Homo sapiens: one gene and its partner. The protein of the gene in region 2 purifies or fractionates together with the protein of the main gene of each other region. This does not show direct contact. Each region holds a gene or a part of one and is shown on either strand. Other genes may lie near its edges.

What was found.
Region 1: the proteins of CASD1 (region 2) and NDUFB3 purify together in Homo sapiens (affinity purification with mass spectrometry; one large-scale study listed by BioGRID and IntAct). This does not show direct contact.

What each region holds. Positions count from the first base shown.
Region 1 is NC_000002.12:201,078,421-201,082,254, reverse strand, and holds part of NDUFB3 (NADH dehydrogenase [ubiquinone] 1 beta subcomplex subunit 3), read right to left. Parts: intron 3,375-3,834; 5' UTR 3,373-3,374; coding exon 3,233-3,372; intron 1-3,232. UniProt on the Homo sapiens protein: Accessory subunit of the mitochondrial membrane respiratory chain NADH dehydrogenase (Complex I), that is believed not to be involved in catalysis. Complex I functions in the transfer of electrons from NADH to the respiratory chain.
Region 2 is NC_000007.14:94,554,742-94,557,786, reverse strand, and holds the end of CASD1 (N-acetylneuraminate (7)9-O-acetyltransferase), read right to left. Parts: intron 2,296-3,045; coding exon 2,029-2,295; 3' UTR 768-2,028; downstream 1-767.

The DNA of each region.
Region 1 (3,834 bases), on a different chromosome or scaffold from region 2:
ACGCCAGGCCTGATGGCTCAAACCTGTAATCCTAGCACTTTGGGGGGCTGAGGCGAGCGGATCACTTGAGGTCATGAGTTCAAGACCAGCCTGGCCAACATGGTGAAACCCCATCTCTACCAAAAAAATACAAAAATTAGGCCTGGCGCGGTGGCTCATGCCTGTAATCCCAGCGCTTTGGGAAGCTGAGGTGGGTGGATCATGAGGTCAGGATATCGAGACCATTCTGGCTAACACAGTGAAACCCCATCTCTACTAAAAAATACAAAAAATTAGCCGGGCATAGTGGTGGGCGCCTGTAGTCCCAGCTACTCGGGAGGCTGAGGCAGGAGAATGGTGTGAACCCAGGAGGCGGAGCTTGCAGTGAGCGGAGATCGTGCCACTGCACTCCAGCCTGTGTGACAGAGCGAGACTCCATTTCAAAAAAAAAAAAAAAAAATTAGCTGGGCGTGGTGGTGCACGTCTGTAATCCCAGCTACTCAGGAGGCTGAGGCAGGAGAATTGCTTAAACCCAGGAGGCAGAGGTTGCAGTAAGCCAAGATTGTGCCACTGCACTCCAGCCTGGGTGACACAGTGAGACTCTGTCTCCCAGAAAAATAAAATAAAATAAAATAAATAATTAATTCAGTATAAATTTAATAAAATATGTGCAAGACCTGTACGTAAAGCAATAAAATACTGCTGATAAAATGAACAAGACCTAAATTGCCCATTGACTAGAAGACTTAATATTGTTAAGACATCACTTATCCCTAAATTTTTTGTTTTCTTTAAGATGGAAGCTTACTCTGTTGCCCAGGCTGGAGTGCAGTGGCACGATCTTGGTTCATTGCAACCTCAGCCTCGCGGGTTCAAGTGATTCTCCTGTCTCAGCCTCCTGAGTAGCTGGGATTACAGGTACCCACTACCACACCTGGCTAATTTTTGTATTTTTAGTAGAGACAGGGTTTCCCATGTTGCCCAGGCTGGTCTCGAACACCTGACCTTAAGTGATCCACCCGCCTCGGCCTCCCAAAGTGCTGGAATTACAGGTGTGAGCCACCATGCCTGGCCCCTAAATTGATGGGAATCTGATTCAATGTGGATGTGAAATAGATTCCCATTGTGAATCTATGTGAAACAGATTCAATGTGATCCCAATTAAAATCCAAGCAGGGATTTTAATAGAAATTGTCAGGTTCATTCCAAAGTTTATATGTAAAAGCAAAGGACCTAGAATAGCTAAAACAATTTTTTACAGGTTGGAGATCTTGGCTGGGCACGGTGGCTCATGCCTGTAATCCCAGCACTTTGGGAGGCTGAGGCGGGTGGATCATGAGGTCGGGAGATCCAGACCATCCTGGCTAACACGGTGAAACCCCGTCTCTACTAAAAATACAAAAAATTAGCAGGGCATGGTGGCAGGCACCTGTAGTCCCAGCTATTTAGGAGGCTGAGGCAGGAGAATGGCGTGAACCCGGGAGGTGGAGCTGGCAGCGAGCCAGATTGAGCCACCACACCCTAGCCTGGGTGACAGAGTGAGACTCTGTCTCAAAAAAAAAAAAAAAAAAAAAAAGTTGGAGATCTTATGCTATGTAATTTAAAGACACTGTGGTATTGGCATAAGGGTGGACATATTAATGAGGGTAACAGAGTACAGTCCAGACATAGATCCCATAGATACAGTCAATTGATTTTTTTTTCTTGAGGCAAGGTCTCTCTCTGTTGCCCAGGTTGGAGTGCAGTGGCCAGATCTTGGCTCACTGCCGCCTGGACATCCTGGGCTCAAGTGATCTGCCCACCTCAGCCTCCTGAGTAGCTGGGACTACATGTGTGTGTCATCACATCTGGCAATTCTTAAAATTTTTTTGTAGAGACAAAGTCTCCCTGTACTGCCTAGGCTGGTTTCAAAATCCTGGGCTCAAGCGATCCGCCTGCCTTGGCTTCCCAATGTGCTGGAATTATAGGTGCGAGCCACCACCCACATTGAGTGTCAAAAATCACTCAATGGATTTTTGACAACATTATTAAGGTAATTCAACGGAGGTACAATAATTTTTTAATAAATGGTGCTGGAGCAACTGGATGCACATATGTAAAAATACTAATCTTCATCCTTACTTCATATGACACAAAAATGAACTCAAAACAGATCACAGAATGTAAGAAGAACTATAAAAGCTTCTAAAAGAAAGCATAGAAGATAATCTTAGGGTGCAAAAAGGATACATTGTAAAATTTAAAAATTGCTAAATTGTGAATTCATCAAAATTTAAAACTCTCTGAAAGACATTATTCAGAAAATAAAAAGATAAGCCACACTGTGAGAAAAAACATTTGCAAACCTTAAAAAAAATTGTTTTAAATCCTTGCACAGGGCCATACTAACTTCTCTGTATTACAATTTTAGTATATATGTTTCTGAAGCAAGCACCACAAAACTTTTATCTGATAAAGGACTTACACTCAAAACAGGTGAATTTTACTATATATAAACGATAGCTCAATAAAGTCGATTTTAAAATTTTAATGTGGCTAGGTGTAGCGGCTCATGCCTGTAATTTTAACACTTTGGGAGGCCAAGGTGGGCAGATCACTTCACCTCAGGAATTTGAGACTAGCCCGGGCAACATGGCAAAACCCTGTCTCTACTAACAATATAAAAATTAGCTGGGCATGGTGGCCCATGCCTGTAGTCTCAGCTACTAGGGAGGCTGGAGTGGGAGGATTGCTTAAGCCTGGGAGATGGAGGTTGCTGTGAGCGCACCACTGCACTCCAGTCTGGGTGACAGAGTGAGACCCTGTCTCAAAACAAACCAAAAACTTTTAAAGTAGCCAGGCGTGGTGGCTCATGCCTGTAATCCCAGCACTTCGGGAGGCTGAGGCAGGTGGATCACGAGGTCAGGAGATCGAGACTATCTTGGCCAACATGGTGAAACCCCGTCTCTACTAAAAACACAAAAAGTAGCTGGGCTTGGTGGCGCGTGCCTGTAATCCCAGCTGCTTGGGAGGCTGAGGCAAGAGAATCACTTGAACCCGGGTGGCGGAGGCTGCAGTGAGCTGAGATCGCGCCACTGCACTCCAGCCTGGCAACACAGCAAGACACCGTCTCAAAAACAAAACAAAAACCAAAAAAAACCCTTTAAAGTAAAAAGCCATTTTTCATGATTCTCTAAGGAGAATACATTGAAAAGCAACATAGACACTTGATTCTCTAGGATACATTCTATCTAAATTACTTAATTCATCTTACCGGCCCCATGGATCCCTTAGCCCTTTTGCAGCCAGCTTCTTCTGGATAGTTTCTAATGGTGTCCCTTCTATCTTCCATTGTCTATAATCTGGAAGTTCCATTTTATGATGTCCATGCTCATGTCCATGTTCATGGGCCATGTCTGTAAGGAAAAGATTAACACAAGTGAGAAATATGCAAATTGTAGATATCAAATACCCAAATTTATTGTTTATGTTTTAAGGTAAAGCATTTAATATTAAAAAAAAAAGCCAATATAAATACTTGAAAATTCCAGTTAAAGGATTTTATAAAAGTGTCTTATTCTACAACCATGTTCACAGTTAGGAAATACACATACACAAAATATAAAAAAGAAAAATAATTGGCAATCTCATCACTCAGAGATAACCATTTACTATCTGGTTCTTTTCTTCATTATAATAATAGTAAACATTTGCTAAAATGCTTTATGTGTATTAACTCCAATACCTCTAAAACAACTCTTTATAAATAGTAAACATATGCTAAAATGCTTTATGTGTATTAACTCCATTACCTCTAAAACAACTCTTTGAACTTAAATAATGAGTATCCCCATTTTACAGATGAGGACAATGAGA
Region 2 (3,045 bases):
AAATTATTTTTAAATTATACAGATTATTATATAATTATATGTAAAAAATAGTGCTTTATATTAAATAAGAACAAGTGATGAAGAAACAGGGCTCACCAGGTAAGTTTTAGGCTTCAGTTCAAATAGGAGAGAAAAGCATATATTCACTGCGGCATCCCTACTGAAGACATAAGTGCTTCCAAAATACACAGGGAGACTGGTCATCTTTCTTTTTCAATTGTTTCATCAAGAAGAATCTTTTTCAGGTGATAAAACTTACAAGCTAAATTAAAATGCACTCTACTCATTGGCAAGCTACATGAACAAGAATAATGTGATCACAGTACTTGGAAGTTTTTGATTTATAACTATACTATTCTCTACTTATAAGGCTGCAGTCTAGGAGGCAGAGCAATGAATCATTACAATTGTCTATCTGGGAAATGTCAAAAGATTAAGTAAGGGCAAAAGAAGAGAGAAAAGGAAAGAACACACATCTCTGTCCAAGAAATATTCCTCTATTAATGGAGGTATATCAGTAGCACATAAATCCAGTGCTAAATAAATAATAAGTACATTTTTAAAATCTTCAAGCAAAATCACTAATGAACCATAATGCTTAAACTTCCTTGGTGGAAAGCAGATGACCCTCTGAAGCTCTGATAACTAAATGATTCCTTATCCAACTATCATTTGGTAACCTACCCCTACATATTAAGCAATTTAAAAAGCAAATTTAAGTTGAGGAAATAATTAGATATTTGAACCAATCATGAATGGATCCAGCATTTTTGAAAAAGAACACATATAGTTTAATTGATACTTTGCCAATACAAAAATAAGCATCCACAGAATGTTTATTTACTGTTTAAATTACTCCATATTTTCATATACTGTGAACAGAAAATATATTTTACCCCACATATAGTAAAAGCAAACAAGTGCAATCTTTCAAACATTAAAATCATAATCAAATCTGTACAACAGATAAATAAATGTATACCTCTAACAGTTAGCTTGTAAAAAAAAATCAAACAAAAAGCAAAAACATTTATTGCCCAAATTCACCAGTTTACTTAAAATTCTACTTATGGTAATACAGCTCAATCGTAACAACTTGCATGTTTACTACACTGCACAAGTTTAGACTGATAAATATTTAAAATAGGAGGTGGGTAATAGGAAATACCAAATGGCTATAAAGAGCTTTCCAAATATTGGAAATAATATACGAAAATTAATTAGTGGGGATAACATATTAAATGGATCCACAGGGTAACTGGTATTACACTGGTATAGCTTGAGGAAAGGAAACAGGTGAACGTTTGGATTGGAAAAAAAATTTTGGCTTTTTTATAAAACGAAGCAACAATAACATCAACAATGACAAAACCCTGTCATGGAGCCTCAGAACTATTCTGTGAGACAAAGTGTACAAAGATTTAGGCTTGCATACCCGAAAACCACAGTTAGGAAGAAAAATCATTTCAGGAAACAACATCAGAACAAGAACACATATAAATTAAAGGCATACTGTTTATCATTCCACTTCATTGCACATATAAGAAAACAATACTGCCGTCATTCTTGAGTAAGAAAGTTTCCAATGAAAGAGGAAGTTCCACAATGAATACAGGTGCAGACAGTCTTATTACCACAAATTTAGTTATATCAAAACACTTGGTGGTGTCACTAAGTTAATTAAATTATCTATACTTTTTACTGGAAAGGTAATCATTTCCCTGCCTTCATATGTTAACTTAAAATCACTTACAAATGGAAATATAGATTCAGTAGAAAAGACTTCACATGCAATCCTATACAATGCATTCTGGTTTTTTGTTTGTTTGTTTGTTTTAGTATTTCATATTGGATATGTACATTTCCAATATATACAACCACATATGTTCAACAGATGTCACAGAACTGTCCTCTTGCCACAAACGTTTATATTTACATACACATTTATATCTCCAGATAGATGCTTTTCTCTTCTAGAGACACACAAAGGTAGCCTGAAGAGTTTAGGTTTTTTAGAATTTTTGGAACCTAATGTTTTGATTTATCTTGAATGGATGATAAGATGAGGAGTCCACAAAAAAATGCAGCTATACATGCCAACCTTTTCAAGAGAGATGAGTTATCTTTAGGAATAATAATCTGTGCAAGATCATTAGTGATCTGAGAAATTTCATGTGCCACACAAACAAATATGAAAGTGCTGACAATGATGTTGAGCATAGGGTTTCCAGGTATCAGTACCAAGATACCCCTTGTGTCCGCTGCCAGCCATATGTGATACTGGCAAATAAATAGCTAGGAGAAAAAATATTTAAGTCAGATATTTATAGAGGGTCCATGAATAAATTACAGTTTTCCCTAATTTAAACAATTTGGTTGCATAATAACATTAGAAGGCTTTCCTAAAACCATTTTATTCTGTCTCACTACTGGCCCTGAAAAGTCCACTGCAGTCTACTCCTTAGAACTCCAACTGCTAATACAATCTCTCTTATAAATGAGACCAAAGAAAATAATAGAACAATTATTCAAGAACTCAAAGAGGAATTTATTTTCCCTATTTTAAGAGACAATTTAATAAATCCTATACTCTAAAAACTCTAAAATATATGTTGTTATTACAATATAAATTGTTTTAAAACATTCTATTTCAAATAATAAAGCTTAGACTACTCAGAATACATTTTAAAACCTACTGTTCAAACTGATTTTGTAGATAATTTCATATTATGTATCTTACACAAAATGTAATGAGTTTATACTTTCTCCCACAATTTCCAATCATAATAAGGGTAAATTTTATTATGGTATGCATCAATAAACTGAATTCCAGTAATATATTTAATTATGGAGATGAACAAAAAATCAAAATCCCCTCAGTTTGATTTCATTTATATACCTGGTCTAATATTTTTCTCTCTTGGTCTCAGCATCTTGGTTGTGCTTGAAAGCTCAAGACAACGTAAATAATATTTTGCAAGTAATCTATATCTAGTCATTTAAAAATAAGGCTTAAAAACATTCCAAAATACTTTAGTATTGTTG